3 linked regions of the Homo sapiens genome follow. The protein of the gene in region 1 interacts with the protein of each later gene in a pairwise test. Each region holds a gene or a part of one and is shown on either strand. Other genes may lie near its edges.

Region 1 (7,038 bases):
ATGGTGAAACCCTGTCTCTACTAAAATACAAAAAATTAGCCAGGTATGGCAGCATGCACCTGTAGAATTGCTAGAACCCAGGAGATGGAGGTTGCAGCGAGCCAAGATCGCACCACTGCACTCCAGCCTGGGCAACAGAGCGAGACTCTTGTCTCTAAAAAAAAAAAAACGTGGGTTGATTACTGGGGGAACTCAGTTATCTTCCTATGTCTCTGATTGTGCCCTTTGAGGTTACATTTTCTCTGGGCATCAACCACACCTAATTAAATAGGACACCAAAAGCTGCTACTTTACTTAATATACATCAAAGAGACAGTAGCAGCTTTAACACATAGATGCCACTTCCTGCTTTCACATGCATTCCTATCTTGAAAGTTGAACAGGATTTTAACAGAGCCCCAATATCTGGAGTAATGCTGCTCTTGTAGAATAGTTGTTACATTTACATCCAGAAACATAGGGCGTTATGGCACAGGGCGTGTCCTGAGCATTCAGATGATGCAGAGCCACGGCTGTTGTGTACATGTGTGTTGGAACCACTGAGAAAGATGTGTTGCTTTTGTTCCCTGTAGTAGATTTTCCAACACCAAAGACTGAGCTGGTCCAGAAGTTCCACGTGCAGTACTTGGGCATGTTACCTGTAGACAAACCAGTCGGTATGTGAAATGTTTATTGTCTTTCCACTTTGCAAGTGTGCGGGAGCTCACAGGAGGCGTTCGCCCTCCGAGGAGGGTGAGGTCTGCTGTTTACTCTCACGCCTTGTCTTGAATCAAACTGTCACACTGTCACCTGCCAGAGAACATAAACGGTCCTGATCAAAAGATGAGTAGAGGGACAGGCCCCGCTGCTTTGACCTGTCATCCCCAGCATGCAGGACTTTAGCAATACAGACGTGGATTTCTTGTTTACCCAGTAGTCCAGAGCTGTGTGACTCAGGGCCGTGGAAGAGCTCCGCTGCTCTGAAACGAGGCCTCCATCTCTGAGGCCAGGGCACCTGCTTCGTGTCTTGTCAGCTGGCGGGCCAGGAGAAAGGACTGTGGAGGCTTCATGCTGTCAAGGAGTGACACAGTAGTGGCACACACAGCATTCAGCTCACATGCCAGGGGCAGAGTGTAGTTGCTGGGCTATACCAAGCCAAAAAGAGACTGGGAGATGAAGCCTTCACCAGGGCTAAAAAAGGCTGTGGAGAAATCGCAAGCTACATATACTGCCAAGGGGGCTGTAAGATGGTGCAGCTGCTTTGGAAAACAGTCTGGCATTCTTCAGAAGGTGAAACATAGTTACTTTAGACCCAGCAACTCAGTTCCTAGGCGTAGACCCAAGAGAAGTGAAAACGTTTGTGCATGCAAAAACGTGTATGCAAATGTTCACAGCAGAATTATTGATGAGAGTCAAAAAGCGAAACAACCTGAATGTCCTGACAAATCAACTGACAATTAGATAAATAAGATGTGATACTTCCATACAGTGGAATTTTATTTGGCAATAAAAAGGAATGAAGGACTGAAGTGCGCTGTAGCGTGGATGAAGCCTGAAAACATGCTATGAGGGAAGTCAGTCCCAAAAGACTGCATACTGTGTGATTACGTTCATATGAAACGCCCAAAATAGGCAGAGCTCTAGCGTCAGAAAGTAGGTAAGGGTTGCCTTGGTCTAGGGGTCTGGGGAGTGGGGGAAAAATGCAGAATGACCCCTACCAGGCACGGGGTTTCTCTTTGGGGTGATGAAACTGTTCTAAAATTGATTATGGTAGGTCTAGCATGGTGGCTCACACCTGTAATCTCAGCACTTTGGGAAGCCAAGGCAGGTGGATTGCTTGAGCCCAGAAGTTCAAGACCAGCCCAGGCAACATGGCAAAACCTCATCTCTACAAAAAAAATTCAAAAAATTAGCTGGGCATGGTGGCATGTACCTGTAGTCCCAGCTACTCCAGAGGCCGAGGTGGGAGGATCATCTGAGCCTGGGAGGCTGAGGCTACAGTGAGCCGTGATTGTACCACTGCACTCCAGCCTGGGTGACAGAGCAACACCCTGTCTCAAAAAAAAATTGATGATGGTGATGGGTGCGCTCTGTGAATGTACTAAAATCCACTGGATTGCACACTTTACGTGAGTGAATTGCATGTGAATGATACCTCAATAAAGCTGTCACTCCCACCCCTATCCCCCAGAAAAACTGTGGAAACAGCTGGCAAAAGGGCCCTACTCAATGGGGGGATCCACTGTAAAGGTGCCATCAAGAGACAGTGAGGGTGGAGAGAGGCTGAAGGGCCATGGTCTGCATAGGTAGACAGCGTCTAAGGCACCAGGTCCCCGGAGCTTCTCCTGACTCTCCTCTCCTACTGAAAAGGCTGTTATTTCTTTTTTTTCTTTTTCTTTTTTTGTTTTTTGAGACAGAGTCTCACTGATACTTGCCCAGGCTGGAGTGCAGTGGTGCGATCTCAGCTCACTGCAGCCTCCGCCTCCTGGGTTCAAGCAAGCATGTCCAGCTAATTTTTGTATTTTTAGTAGAGACAGGGTTTCACCGTGTTGGCCAGGCTGGTCTCGAACTCCTGACCTCAAATGATCCTGGCTCAGCCTCCCAAAGTGCTGAGATTACAGGCGTGAGCCACTACGCCCGGCCAGAAGCTGGTATTTCATTCCTGTTGAGCAAACATGAGAATGAAGTGTCCTGTCTATTAAAAAAAGATCAGTCTGGGCGTAGCTGTTATTGGTGATTTGGGCCCACATTTGAGTGTGGTAAGTGGCTTTAGGACACTTTAAATTATCCTTTTCTGTCCCCAGGAATGGATATTTTGAACAGTGCCATAGAAAATCTTATGACCTCATCCAACAAGGAGGACTGGCTGTCAGTGAACATGAACGTGGCTGATGCCACTGTGACTGTCATCAGTGAAAAGGTGAGAAGGAATCTTCGATGACATTGGTGTGTCTTATACAGTGAGTATAAGATACAGTGGTTTTCTGTGGAACTTAGGAACATAGTCAAGGCCGGAGTTGTGCATCCTTGTGATTAAGATGGCCTACATTTGAAAGATTTGGCCCTTTGTCTGGGTCTAAATCTGTGCATACCTCTGTTTTCCTGTGGCCTGAGAAACTTCTCTTCTGGTGCTTCTGATTCTGTCTTCCTCATGTGCCCCAGAGAGAAATTGTTTGCTAGAGGTGAGTGTGTGACGCTAGTAGTCGCTCACTCTCAGGGCGCCAGTATTGCCTGGGCTGTGTGATCTGGGGATGAAAAGCAGAAGATGCTTCCATTTGGGAGAGTCCTGTGACTATCAGTAGCAGAAGGAGCTATTGGTTGTCTTGAGAAGAGGCCACATTAGCCTCAGCCCAAATTATCTCAGTTTCGTGGTTGAAGAAATTGAAGCACAGAGAGGCTAAGTCATTTGCCCAGCATCACACAGTTGGAAGCAATGGAATCAGGACTTAAATCCAGGCAACCTGGCCCAGACTTGTGCCCACTTTTCTATTCTGCCTCTGTGAAGCACCTGCCAGGGAAAGACCACCAGTCATCAGCCTGCCCCACAGCTGCCCGGTTCACCCTGGAGAGAGGAGCAGGGTGCTCACTGCCTGCCTCCAGCTGGCCACACTGAGCTCTCCTCACCTCTTCAAGTAGGTCCCGCCCTTCCCCACACCAGCATCATCGCAAGCACTGCACCCTCCATGCTCCACCCTCTGCCTACCCGACCCTTACCCAGATCACCACCACAGCCTCCTTCCTCCTGAGAAAACTTCCCGACCTCTCACACTAGTGTACTTTGCTCATTAAACACTCCCAAGGCACTAGAGTGAATATTTAATTAGTCAAGATGTTAATGATCCAAAAGTCAACATTTTGGATGTGTTTATTAATTCAAAACTTGCATATGGTTCTTGCAAAGGATGTGGTGTTCATCCCTATGAGAAAGAATTCTGAACATTTCTTTACGCTGCCTCATGTGGATCCCAGATGGACACCAGTTTGCAAGAGAGAAAAGAAAAAAACAATTTGACAACTTTTTGTTGATTTGGCAGCTTTTTGTTTTATATGGTTTTAGATGGAAATGTGATTCAGTGTGCTGTTTAGTTTGGGTAAGAATCACTGGACGAAGAAAGATACCGTGAATCCCTTTTTTCTGGTGCTCTGGGGGTTTACTTGGCCAAATGGGTTTTGGGCCACCAGGTGTCCTGTATTTGGGCTAGATGTAAGAAGTATGGACGGCACTGTCCCTCCCCACAGTGAACTCACAGCCACGTAGCATAATGGAGAATGGGACCCACATCACACCCCATGACAGCAGTGTAGTTCAGAGCAAGAATGACCTCCAGAACAGGGTAGCCATGCAGTGATGGCCTCTTCAGACATTTGGGCAAGGTTCCGCCTTTCGAGAAAAACACAGGTCCTTTCTGAATTCGGCCTGGCTATACTTTCTGAATGCCAGTTCCTATGTGCTGCCACTCTTAAGCTTGATCCTGGGATCTCCTGATTGGATGCCGCATAATGTCTCTTGCAGAATGAAGAGGAAGTCTTAGTGGAATGTCGTGTGCGATTCCTGTCCTTCATGGGTGTTGGGAAGGACGTCCACACATTTGCCTTCATCATGGACACGGGGAACCAGCGCTTTGAGTGCCACGTTTTCTGGTGCGAGCCTAATGCTGGTAACGTGTCTGAGGCGGTGCAGGCCGCCTGCATGGTGAGTTATCCCGGTACAGGCTGTTGAGCCCTCCCGCCTCTGCTCATCTCTAATATGCCATACATTATAGCAGAATCACTCACGGAAATGAAAAAAGTCGAATCCCTAAAGTAATGCTTTACTTTATAACGCCGTCATTCCTAGGGCCAGAATCAGTTATGATAAACAGATTACATCTCCAAAGGCCAGAACTCCTGAAAGAAGTGGGGCCAGATAGAGGCTCCGATGAGTTTCATAACCACCACCTTGACGACGGTCAATCCTTGATCCCAAATCAATTTCATGTGTGAAATGTTGGTCGTGTATGAGTTGGTACTGTTTGGGTTCAATTCAGTACTTTAAAAATCAATACATTGAATGACTTTTGTTTCCAGTGATTGGTTTCTGTACACCGTTCTTATATATTTTATTTATATCTGTTAACTCAGTCCTTCCGACAACTCTGTTAGGTAGTTGTTAGTTCTGTTTTATTTATGAGAAAATAGAGACTTTAGGGAAGTTAGAGAATGGGCCTCAGGGCTTGTCGGTAAGTGACAGAGCCGAGCCTGGATTCAGCCCCAAGCTGCCAGGTGACAAAGTCAGAGCTCTTTATACCACATGGATACTTGGAAACAAACAAGAATCCCTCATTATTCCTTCAGCATGTGTCTTTGTGCCCCTCTTATGCCAGACACTGCAAAAGTTCTAATAAAAATGAGGGAACTGGGCCGGGGGTGGTGGCTTACGCCTGTAATCCCAACACTCTGGGAGGCTGAGGCAGGCGGATCACTTGAGGTCAGAAGTTCAAGACCAGCCTGACCAAATGGAGAAGCCCTGTCTCTACTAAAAATACAAAATTAGCCAGCGTGGTGGCGCATCCCTGTAATCCCAGCTACTCGGGAGGCTGAGGCAGGAGAATCACTTGAACCTGAGAGGCAGAGGTTGCAGTGAACCGAGATCGCGTCATTGCACTCCAGCCTGGGCAACAAGAGGGAAACCCATCTCAAAAAAAAATGAGGGAGCTATATGAGTGTGGGCACCAAAGCCTGTGGGCAGGTGTGTTCCAGCAGCAGCAGGTTGGGTGCTGGGCCCGAGTGGAAGGAGGTGCGGTCCAGATCATGGCGGGCTTATGATGATGGCGTGTGGGGGCCTGATTTTCTTCAGCAAGGATTGCTAAACTGGGGATTGAATTGATTGTATTTAGATTATTTATTTATTTATTTATTGAGATGAAGTTTTGCTTTTGTTGCCCAGGCTGGAGTGCAATGGCGCGATCTCAGCTCACTGCAACCTTCGCCTCCTGGGTTTAAGTGATTCTCTTGCCTCAGCCTCCCAAATAGCTGGGATTACAGGCACCTGCCACCACGCCTGGCTAATTTTTTATATTTTTAGTAGAGATGGGGCTTCATCATGTTGGCCAGGCTGGTCTCAAACTCCTGACCTCAGGTAATCCACCCGCCTCAGCCTCCCAAGTGCTGGGATTACCGGCATGAGCCACCGCACCCAGCCTGTATTTAGATTTTAGACGAGTATCCAGCAAAAAAAGAAGACAACCAAGTAGAGGATAGGTTGGAGGAACAAGGCTGAGGTGGCGATCAGCCAGGAGCCCAGTTACCTTCTGCAGATGGGAGAGAGGAGGAGCGTCCACGCTAGGAGAGCAGCGTTGGGAACAAACAGGAGCAGAGGCTTTGAGAAGCACCGAGCTGCCTGGCTGGGGGAGAACTGCTGCATGTGAAGCCCCTGGGCTTCATTTAATTCAGCCTCGCACTTACGGGCTGGAATCTGGGGCATTCAGCATGACTGAGATACAGTCCTTGCATTGTAGAGCTCAGGTATAGTGGGGGAGACACAGAAACCTAAACTCTGTTACAGTGTAGAAAGTGCTGTAAATAAAAGTATGAGGATCTTCACTTTCAGCCGGGCGTGGTGGCACATGCCTGTAGTCCCAGCTTCTGAGGAGGCTAAGGTGGGAGGATGGCTCAAACCCAGGAGGTCGAGGTGCAGTGAGCTACGATGGCACCACTGTAGTCCAGCCTGGGTGACAGAGCGAGACCCTGTCTCAAAAAAATAAATAAGAAAAATAAGTATGAGACTGTGCTGGATTGAGAAGTAACTGGGAAGAAAAAGAAGTGGAGGCCCTAAAAGCAGATAACTTACAAAGTTTGCCAGTGAGGGGGAGCTTGAAGGGCAGCATTGGAGGGTTTGTTCATGTGTTTATTTCAGGACAGGAGAGGCCTGCCCCTTTTTTATTCTTTATTTTTATTTTATTTTATTTTTTTTAAGAGATGGGATCTTGCTATATTCCCCAGGTTGGTCTTGAACTCCTCCCTGGAACGGCAGGGGAGCACCACCATGCCCAGCTAGGTTTTCTTTTGTGGAAAATGGAG
Region 2 (2,762 bases), on another chromosome or scaffold:
TCAGCAAGTAAGGCTGGTCTTCATGTCCACCCGCCTATGCCACTCTCCCTTCTTGGGAGCATGATGGCCTCCTGCATTGCCCTCTTGCCCTCCATCCACCCCCCCCATCCTCAATTCAGGAGGCCTGAGGGGGGGCAGCCACTAAGCGTGGGGGTGGCATCATGGTATGGGCTGCCAGCTCCTGCCCACCCCACCCTGACAGGTACCTGACCTTCCTCCTGGTGGTGACCATCCTCATTGTCGTGAATGCTGTGGTTGTGCTCAATGTCTCCTTGCGGTCTCCACACACACACTCCATGGCCCGAGGGGTCCGCAAGGCAAGGACCCTCCCTGCCCACTTCAACATCCCGCTGCCCACTCCCCTACGCCTCCCTCTCGCACGCCCCGGCAGTACTCACCTGTGGCATTCCACAGCACACCCATCCTGGGCGTATCTGGACGCATGGACCAAAATCGATTACAGTAATACAGGAATGAAATTGCTTCCTAGGTGCCCGGGATATTACAAATGTTAATGTATTTCATCTTCATAAAACCCATATCACCTCCAATTACAGATGAGGACGTTGAGGCGCAGAGAGGTTAAGTAACCTGCCCAAGGAAGTGCACTACAAAGTCGAAAAAGCAGGAGTCTGCCAGGGCAGTCTGATTCCAGTCTGTGTGATCTGTAGCCCACCTGCAGCCTTCAGCTTGGGCCCTTGTTGCACATGCAGATTCCCAGGCCTGTCCCAGGCATTCTAGGCCAGAATAGCATGAGGGCTGGGGGCAGGAATCTGTGTTTATAACAAGTGCCCTGGTGATTCTGATGTGCACTGAAGTTTGGGGACCCAGGCTCGTGTCCAGTATAGAAAGCTTTACCAAGGCCACGTCACTGCCCCGGTATGCTGCCTCCATGGTCCCTAGCAGCACAAGCCCTTCACGCCAACCTCTGGCTTCTGCTCTGAAGCTCGGCCTGCTGCCCTAGTGAAGCCACCCCCTCTCTAGGTGTTCCTGAGGCTCTTGCCCCAGCTGCTGAGGATGCACGTTCGCCCGCTGGCCCCGGCAGCTGTGCAGGACACCCAGTCCCGGCTACAGAATGGCTCCTCGGGATGGTCGATCACAACTGGGGAGGAGGTGGCCCTCTGCCTGCCTCGCAGTGAACTCCTCTTCCAGCAGTGGCAGCGGCAAGGGCTGGTGGCGGCAGCGCTGGAGAAGCTAGGTGAGACACACCAGGTGTGCCTGGGGACAGTCCTCCCCTGGGACCCCAGCTGGGGAGCCAGGCACAGCAGATGAGTGCTGGAGAAGTGCCCAGGTCAGGGAGAGAGGAGCTGGGGTCCCTAAGGAGAGGCCATCTTCTCTGCCTGTTTCTCCTCCATTCTACTCCCAAACCTTACCCTTTCTCTTTATCAGAGAAAGGCCCGGAGTTAGGGCTGAGCCAGTTCTGTGGCAGCCTGAAGCAGGCTGCCCCAGCCATCCAGGCCTGTGTGGAAGCCTGCAACCTCATTGCCTGTGCCCGGCACCAGCAGAGTCACTTTGACAATGTAAGCTGAGTCAGGGTGGGGTGGAGGTGGAGTGAGTACCTGGGCTTGGAACCGTGATAGAGACAGGATGAGTGGGGTTGCCAAGATAGGGCAGTGGGATGGAAAAACATGAGGCCGGGTGCAGTGGGTCACACCTGTAATCCCAGTACTTTGGGAGGCCGAGGCGAGTGGATCACCTGAGGTCAGGAGTTTGAGACCAGCCTGGCCAACATGGCAAAACCCTATCTCTACCAAAAATACCAAAAATACCAAAAATTAGCTGGGTGTGGTGGCGGGCACCTGTATTCCCAGCTACTCAGGAGGCTGAGGCAGGAGAATTGCTTGAACCTGGGAGGCGGAGGTTGCAGTGAGCCAAGCCAAGATCGCACCACTGCACTCTGGCCTGGGTGAAAGAGTGAGACGTGAGACTCCGTCTCAAAAAAAAAAAAAAGGAAAGAAAGAAAGAAAAAGGAACAGGGGCAGGGGGGGCACCTCAGGGCCAGGGGGCCATGGAATTAGCCACCAGTTGGGACCCGGACATAGGTAAGAAGGGCCCCAGGAAATGGAGACATGGGCCTGCTGGAAGCCCAAGGATGAGAACAGGACCCAGGGAAGACCTGGTGCCGCCGCTGGTTATCCCACACCTGCCTCCCACCCTCAGGGGAATGAGGAGTGGTTCCTGGTGGGCCGAGTGCTGGACCGCGTCTGCTTCCTGGCCATGCTCTCGCTCTTCATCTGTGGCACAGCTGGCATCTTCCTCATGGCCCACTACAACCGGGTGCCGGCCCTGCCATTCCCTGGAGATCCACGCCCCTACCTGCCCTCACCAGACTGAGCCAACCAACCACTGTGGGGCATGTGGGAGTCACACACGTGGGTCACACTGAGTCTTATCAGCCACGTTCTCCTACTGAGGTCCTAAGTGTGCTCTTTGGGAAGTGCCCTTCAGGACTGTGTGAGCCAAACAGCCCTGAGAAAAGCTGGGGAAACAGTCTGAGCTGGAGTCCGAGAGTGGTTGGGGGTGGGCCGTGGCTAGTGTCCTGCTGCAGTCAGCACACACGTGGGATTGGCTAGCTCATCCTGGCACCAGCCACCCCTCCACTCAGTGCACTCCCCTCACTTAGGCAAAGCATTATTCATTCCCATCAGTCTGAAGCCCGAAGGACTGTTTTGTATAATACCTTCGGACTTGGGACTGGCTCCCCTTTTACAAGTTCTCCCTGAAAGAGGGCAGTCACAAGAGGTGTGAAGAGTAGCAGCCGA
Region 3 (7,382 bases), on another chromosome or scaffold:
TTCGTTGGATGATTGCACCGCAGGGGTCACCAACCATCTCCGCCACGCGCTACTCGGGGGAAGGAAATCGCGCTTTAAAATACAAAAATCTGTAGTTTTAATATGATTTCCTTTATTACCCAGATTGTAACTGAAGAATTGCAACGCAGCGCTTCTGTCTGGGAAAGGCAGCTGCGGCAGCAACAGCTGGAGTAGTGCAAGCGGGAATCTGAGGCTCAGTAAAAGTTTGTAAGAGTTGAGATCTAGCTATCAGAAAGCGGCAGCGGCATCCTTAGAGACCCTGGGGACAAAATAAATGGGTCTCCCACCAGTTGAATGACAAGTATCATCAGATCGGAAACGAGGCTCAGTTTCTGGATGCTGAGTGGACTGTGCGTGCGGGAATATTTTAAGACGGCATCGTATGTCTTGCTTGGCAATTAAAATAGTTGAAAAAGTTGCTCAAGAAAATTCGAAGGGTTTTGTGTTCTGCTTTCACTTCAGAAGTTATCGGGCAGTGAGTTGCGGCGCGAAGCCTTAAGCTTTCACTTCACAACTTAGGCATGGTTGAAAAGGGCTACCCACCCCCACCCACCATCCCACTCCCGCCAACTCCCCCCCCCACACACACACTCTCTCTCTCTCCCAACCTTTAGTCCAAATCGAAGCCCGCAAACCTCAAGTATATGTACATTTATTTCCCTTCAGATGAAAATAAAGACATCGGCCTCATTTAAAAGCAAACAGGGAAAACAGTTCCACCGGCGCCCTTTGACACTGTAGCAGCGAGTGTAAAGAACAACACCCAAAAGAGAAACAGATGGACTGATGACCCAAAGAGCCCTATATTTAGGTTGATTTCTCAGACCCAGGGGAAAGGAAATGTATCGGGGAGTGTACGAGTGCTTGGGTGAGGACTGCACAAAGCACTGGAAAGGCGCCTGGGATGACAGCATCTCGCGGGGCTACACCGCCGACTCCAATGCCCGCGAAGCCGAGCCTGCTGAGGTGCCGCCGACTTCCCGGGCTGCTGCAGGGACGCAGTGAGCAAGGAGGCGTGGATACGATACCTACCGTATTTGGTTCTAATGTGCGAGGGTCGCGCGGGGGGAGACTGGGATTTCACTGGGGAGAAGCATCCCACCCATCTCCGATCTCTCATTTCTGCGTTCCGTAAACAACACAATTAGAGAGTTTTGTTTTCGGCGAGTGCGAGTGTGGGAGAGAGAACCGCGGCCTGTCCACTCCCGAGGCAGCTCCAGCCCCGCCTATTGACACCTCAAGGAAGAGCGCTCCCAGCCGCTCCGGGGCTCAGTGTCCCTGAGTCCCCTTCAACTCGAAGTAGAAGCATTTGGACAAACGCAGTCCTGTCGTCTACAGTCCTGGCGGAGCATCACACCGTGTGGGAAAGTGTGGGCCCCGCCGGCAAAGCCAGGCGAGTCATCCAACACTTTTGCTGTAAGAGTGGGGGATGGGACTCCCACCGCCCCCTCCCCAAACCCCTTAGCCCACATCCCGCCAGACCAAGGCCGCTCCGCGCCGGGCAGGCAGGGGGCGCCGGGGAGGGTTATTGACCCTGGACCCAGGCTGCACCCAGACGAAGCGCCGGAGGCTGCGCTGCGCCCTCTCCGCGGCCCAACGCTCTGGCAGCCCGCCCCCTGGGGTTTGCTCGGCGCCCAGCAAGCCCGAGGTGCGCGGGTCGCAGCGCGCCCTCTCTGCCTCCTGCTCCTAGGCTGCCGCCGCTGGCTGTGTGCCCTCCACTCCCGGCTCTCCGAGCGCTCGCTGGGCCTCTTCTCTCCCCACGTCCGAGCGCTCGCTGGGCCTCTTTCCTCCCCACCTGCGCGTGGCTGTGCGGAGCCGGTAGCTCTGCTCTGCCCGTGCCCCCGCCCCCACCCCGCGATCACAGCCCCCACCTTGGTGTCCCCTACTCCCCGCCGCAGTCCTCCCGCCGCGCAGCGCCGCGCCGGAGAGCATGGCCGAGCGCACAGCGCCCACTACCGCAGCCGCGGCTCGGCGCAGTCCACCCGCCCGCCCGCGCAACTTCCAGCGGCCGCCTCGCAACTTTTCCCAAGTCCACCACAGCCGCCCGCCGCCGCCGCCACTGTGGCTCCCTCTGAGCCGCCTACCCTACCCAAACCCCAGAAACAAACCGAGGCTCGAAAAGGCTCCCTTCTCCTGCCGGCCCCCCATCCCCCGCGCCCCCCTCCTCCCACACCCGGGACTAGCTGGTTGGCCAGAGGCAACTCTCCCCCGCCTGGGGGGAAGGGGAGGGGAGGGGGAGACTTTCTCCTCTTCTCTTCCCCCCCACCCCACCCCTTCGCGCTCACTCTCGCGCTCTCTCCTCCCTCCCACCCCTAGTCTTTGCTGCCCCCACCCCCACCCCCACCCCGGGGTTGCCACAGCTGGTCGGTGCGCGGGACTGAGGGCTGCCCAGGCTCCTCCGGCGCCCAACCCGGGAGCGAGAGCGCGGGCGACCGGGAGCAGAGACTGGAACCGGCAGGTTGCTGGGGCTGCGCTCCGCCTGCCCTCCACCCGGGGCCCCGGCGCAAGAGGCAGCCCGCGCTCCCTCCCGGAGCGCTAGAGACAGATATGCAAGATGGCAGAGGAGGGGGAAAAGCCAATAGAAAAGGGATATTGCACCTACTTGTGGCCAGTTTCCTTGCCCTGCCTTTGGATCTCATGCTGTGCCCAGTCCTGCAGCCGCTGGTGTGTGGTTGGGGCTTTTTTTTCTTGGATCCTTTCCTTCTTTTGCTCTCCCTCTCGCTCCCTCCCTCTCTCTCCTGTCTCTCTCTCTCTCTCTCTCTCTCTCTCTCTCTCTCTCTCTCTCTCTCTCTCTCTCCCTCCCTCCTGTTTCTCTCCTGTTTCTCTCTCTCTTCCACACACTCACTCTCTGTATTTTCTTCTTTCACTCTCTCTCCCTCCCTCTCTCCCTTTCTCTCAATCCACACTCGCTATCTCTCCAGCATTGTCAGTTTGGACACCTTCGCACATGCGCGCTAGACGCCCCTCCAACATCTCAGCGCCGCCAAAAAAAGTTTGGAGCGATTTATCACTTTGATTTGGAGATCTTGTCAGATGGCAATCGCCGAGGAGGCGGAGAAAGGGAGCCGCGGGGAGGGCGGCGGGGGGCGGGGAGCGAACGCAGGGAGCCAGAGGGGAGCAGACACCTCGCCCAAAAAAAGGGGAGGGGGGAATTGAAAAGGCTTGGGCAGAGGATTGATTCCATGTTAGAATCGCCAACAAGCTTGTATCATGATTATTGTTATTGTTTTTCCCACCATAAATTGCAGACATTTTTCTATACCATCTACGAGGGAAGCAAGAAGCCAGGGGGGAAAAAAACTTTAAAAACATTTTTTAAAAACCCTTCTCCTGTTAAAGAACTAGAAGGGCTGGACCCTCGGCTAATAATCCAGGAGAAAGTGAGAATCATCCTGAACTTGAGAAATCTACTGCTGCCGCTGCTACTGCTACTGAAGCTATTGCAGCTTCCGCTTTCAGGGTTGTAAGCAGAATAAATAACTGGTTTTTTCCTCGATTTTAGCTGTAATACCAATGCTTGCTGCCATCCTTGGGACATTTCAGTATTCTTTCCCTACCAAGTAGTAATGATCACCCTTGATTCCCGGGTCCGGGCCGGCGCTGGCATTTGACATCCAAAGACCTCCTGCTTTCTCAGAGGTCGGCTGTCACCTTCCGGCCTCCCCCACTGCTGCCCCGGTCGCCTCCCGATGCAGCTCTGCTTGCCTGCCATTTTCACTCACTCGCTTAAACCTACAACCTCGGGGTCAAAAGAAAGAGGAGTAGGGAGGAAAATCACACACTCTTAAAAAAATACATTGTTGAAATTTCCTTTAATTACAGGATTTACCAATGAAGTGCCACTCAGAAATGGGAATTCCTAAAGGGGCTAGCTGTGTACAAGGTATGAATCAATCCCAACTAGGTATAGATTTTCTTTTGGTACAACCTTCTTGCATTAAACAGTTTTGTTCAATACCTTCCATGTGCTATTTATGTCCCCATTAATATCTGTTGCAAATCCTGCCAGACACCATAAAAGAAAATTACAATCTTTTCAGTCTCCGTGCTGCAACAATACATCCTTGATGTTCAAGTTAAAGGAAAAGAAAAGCAGGTCCTGGGCATGAGTTTGGCAAAGGCTGTGGAGGGAAAGGGGAATCATTGAGAATGCCCAGTCGTACCTGTTGGTATTTATTATCAAATCTAGGACTGCAGACATGAGAGAGCAAATAACAAGGTTCAACCCCAAAGGGTATCAATGGCCTGCAAATCTCTTTATTCAAGAGAATCAAAGTTCAAAGAATTTGTCCTTGTTAAGGATGCCTACCATTTTCCTTTATCCAGAGCTGTGTAATTCTGGGGGCATTTGGCTGTAAGATAGAGGTCCCTGGAGAACCAAGCTACAGGTCTCAAGGGAGACAGATGTATAAGGTTGAAATGTGAGGAAGGGAAGTAGGAAGGTAAAGGAGGGAATTACTCACAACAGGAGTAAAACAACTTCCAAAAGAGAAGGCTCTAGTGCCCACACGCGTGGGCACAAGAGAACTCTATTATCCACTCTGAATTAAAGAGGCACCTGGGTTTTTTTCCAGACCTAGAATTCCCGCTGTCCTGTGCATAAAGGTGAGTGTGCTAACACATTTGGTGTGTGCAAAAGCACCAGCCATTCCAACATTCTGTTAGGTTCACACAGGTCTTTGACTCTGAAACTTCCCCCAAAATGTGACTCCACCAGCTTCCCTCAGTTTAGATGGAGAGGTGCCTACCCTCTGACCAGCAAATGTCCTCCGAGGAAACGGAGAAATGGGTCTTGAGAGGCTTTGGAAGGGGGGACAAAATCTCTAGGGAGAGACAAACACTAGGCTGACTGGCAAGAAGTTCATAAGGCTGCTTCTGATCGGTGTAAGAGACTCTCTAGGGACCATCCCCTAGGCCAGGGGACAGACCAGCAGCACCTGAAGATCCCAGCTGTCAAAATCTAGGTCTTGTCCCTCCAATCCTCACCTTCCCTGCCAGGCACCCCAGGGGTGGCTGAGCACCTTGCCTTGGTGCCCAACCGCCAAGGTAGCTTAAAAAAAAAAAAGAAAGAGAAGAAAAGAAAAAAGAAAAGAACCGCCATCCTCCCCTCCACTCCTCCGGCTAATCCCTTTCACCTCATCCCCAGGGGGTCTGTCTATGTCTAGGTTCCCTTGGAGACGGGAGGTTAAGAGGGGTGCAAGAAATGTTCCTAGGAAAGGAGGGGACCAAGGTACCAAACTCTGAGATTAAATGCAAGACCCACATGTGAAGCTGAGCTTGCTGTTGCTGCTGAGAAATTATAAACCACGTGGAGGGTTGGGGAGGTAGGGGGTGGGTTCTGTGAGGGGAACTGGGTGGGAGGTGGAAGACTGAAGTGAATCGGAGTCTCCGAACCTCCAAATTTAAAGGTCCCCGTCTTTTAAACTTTTCTAGAAGGGGGGTTGGCGGAGTGGGAGGCGGAATGAGGCGCGGCTGGAGTACCCCTCCCCTTCTGGTTTGAAGTCTCCGCTGTCGCTTCAGCGCTCCAGCTTTCTCCCTGGTCTTTCTAACAGTTTCGGGCCACGAGAAAATCCAACCCCTTCTAACAAATAATAAACGCAAACTCTTCTCTGTCCCCAGACCAAGCCATTGTGAAAAGACAAGACATCGTCTTTTAAATAAATAAAAGTATTCTCAATATCATTCGTTTTTTATTTTCAAACCTAAAAGCTGGGCTTCTTTTCCTTTTCTCTCCTTTTCTTTTTCTTTCTTTATCATTAGCTTTCTGCCCTAAGTGTGCGCTAATAAAGAGCTAAGTTGCTAGTTCAAGTGTGTTTAACCTGATGGAGCAAACACCCAGCAGCAACCGGTCGCGCTCGCGGCTGATAGCGCCGCGACCTCTGCGCGTCCGCCCCGGCCGGTTCCCATTCTCAAGTGCCTGGACCCTGTCACTTCCACCTGTCCCAGTCCCAGCCGTGAGACCAGAGCAGGTGACTGTTCAGCAGCCCCTAGAGTTCCCGACACCCTCTGACGGGATGTCTGAGCTGTCGCTGGCCCAAGAGAAAAGAGGCCTCCAACAAGTTGGCGGAGCTGCCCTAGCTACCCGCCCCCACCCCACCTCTCGCCTTTCCCTCTCCTCCTGAAATTCGTTTTCTTGGGGGACAGTAGCATGCATTCCAACGTTTCCTTGTGTTTTCTCCCACGGAAGCGAGCATCCTGGAAGCAGTGCCTCGTTGGAAAGTCGATGGGTTTACAGACTGTCTGGGTTTGCTTGTTTTATTGCTGTCACTTTTTGTTTCGTGTTTTTGTTTGTTTAGCAGAAGTGAAGAGATTGAGATAGAAGTTAGAAGGAAAATGGGACATTGATGAGAAAGACACAGACAAGTATATCCCTTCCCCAACTATATTTTTTAAATTAATGTTAGAAATGGCAAATAACCGATTTTCAATACATTACATGCAACAGGAAGTTTTCCTTTCCTCTCATTTTAATTGAACCGGCCCCACGGTATCTTTGGAAGAAAGTTTGAATTCTTTATGGAGGTATTTCGAGGCCTATTGTCTTTGTGCAGTGAACTTTACATCATGCTATTCAATCACAACCTATATTCTCCTGGCTACCAGCAAGATTAATTTAATCATTGTAATGCAATTATTAATACTGTTTACCCAATGCTGGGTTTCAGGTTGGCTGTTAAGAAATTAAACTCTCGCTGGGTGACCAGAGCTAGGCAGGGGTTTCTTCATGTTGAAATGAAACAGTCCTCTTTATTTAGTCTCAGGGCTCCAGCTTTCGGCCACCGGCTCAATTAGCCAAAATGGAAACAATTTTCATTCATTGCAATAACTCACTGTTCTGGAGATCGCTTTCAAAATACACACTTTATTATACGCTGACCTCGGTGGCGTGGAGTGGCAATAAAAGAAAGAGGCAGGGAGATCTATCTAGCCCCCTTGGGCTATAATTATTAGAAATTAATTGGGTTCAGGACCCTGGGTAGCCTAGCTAAATTAATAGCTTGTCTAGTGGTTTAAATCCGAATTTTCAGTCCACAGGAGAGAAAGGGAGAGAGTCACAGACATGAAATGCAGACCCAAGGGACGCCTGAGTTTACTTGCAAGACACTCATCTATTAAATAGTGTCCAGAATACATTTGAGTTGAGGAGGGGGGCTGAAGTAGGAGGGAGCAGGGGCGACAAGAAAGAATGGAGCAAGATGGGGAGGGAGGCTGAGAGTGAGCGAAAAGGTCTCGAGTTGATTTTATTCGATTTTTCTTGTCTGCATTGTTTTCGGGAGGGGTTGCATTTAGGGGTTAAAATAAAAAATAAAGATCCTGTGTACTCGGAGCTGTCGTGCCGGAGTAAAAGTGAAAAGGGAGCC

Evidence for each region.
Region 2: the proteins of APBB2 (region 1) and TIGD1 interact in binary tests that used the Homo sapiens proteins (3 or more experiments, as listed by UniProt).
Region 3: the proteins of APBB2 (region 1) and MECOM interact in binary tests that used the Homo sapiens proteins (3 or more experiments, as listed by UniProt).

Annotation. Positions count from the first base shown.
Region 1 is NC_000004.12:40,819,505-40,826,542, reverse strand, and holds part of APBB2 (amyloid beta precursor protein binding family B member 2), read left to right. Parts: intron 1-572; coding exon 573-656; intron 657-2,783; coding exon 2,784-2,899; intron 2,900-4,492; coding exon 4,493-4,672; intron 4,673-7,038. UniProt on the Homo sapiens protein: Plays a role in the maintenance of lens transparency, and may also play a role in muscle cell strength. Involved in hippocampal neurite branching and neuromuscular junction formation, as a result plays a role in spatial memory functioning.
Region 2 is NC_000002.12:232,543,383-232,546,144, forward strand, and holds the end of TIGD1 (tigger transposable element-derived protein 1), read right to left. Parts: 3' UTR 2,335-2,762; coding exon of another isoform or gene 2,161-2,334; 3' UTR 1,521-2,160; coding exon of another isoform or gene 1,390-1,520; 3' UTR 1,199-1,389; coding exon of another isoform or gene 985-1,198; 3' UTR 501-984; downstream 1-500. Other genes in the region: CHRNG (acetylcholine receptor subunit gamma precursor), read left to right, coding at 1-7, 203-317, 985-1,198, 1,390-1,520, 2,161-2,334.
Region 3 is NC_000003.12:169,660,713-169,668,094, forward strand, and holds the start of MECOM (histone-lysine N-methyltransferase MECOM), read right to left. Parts: upstream 3,001-7,382; 5' UTR 2,661-3,000; coding exon 2,624-2,660; intron 451-2,623; exon of another isoform or gene 124-450; intron 1-123.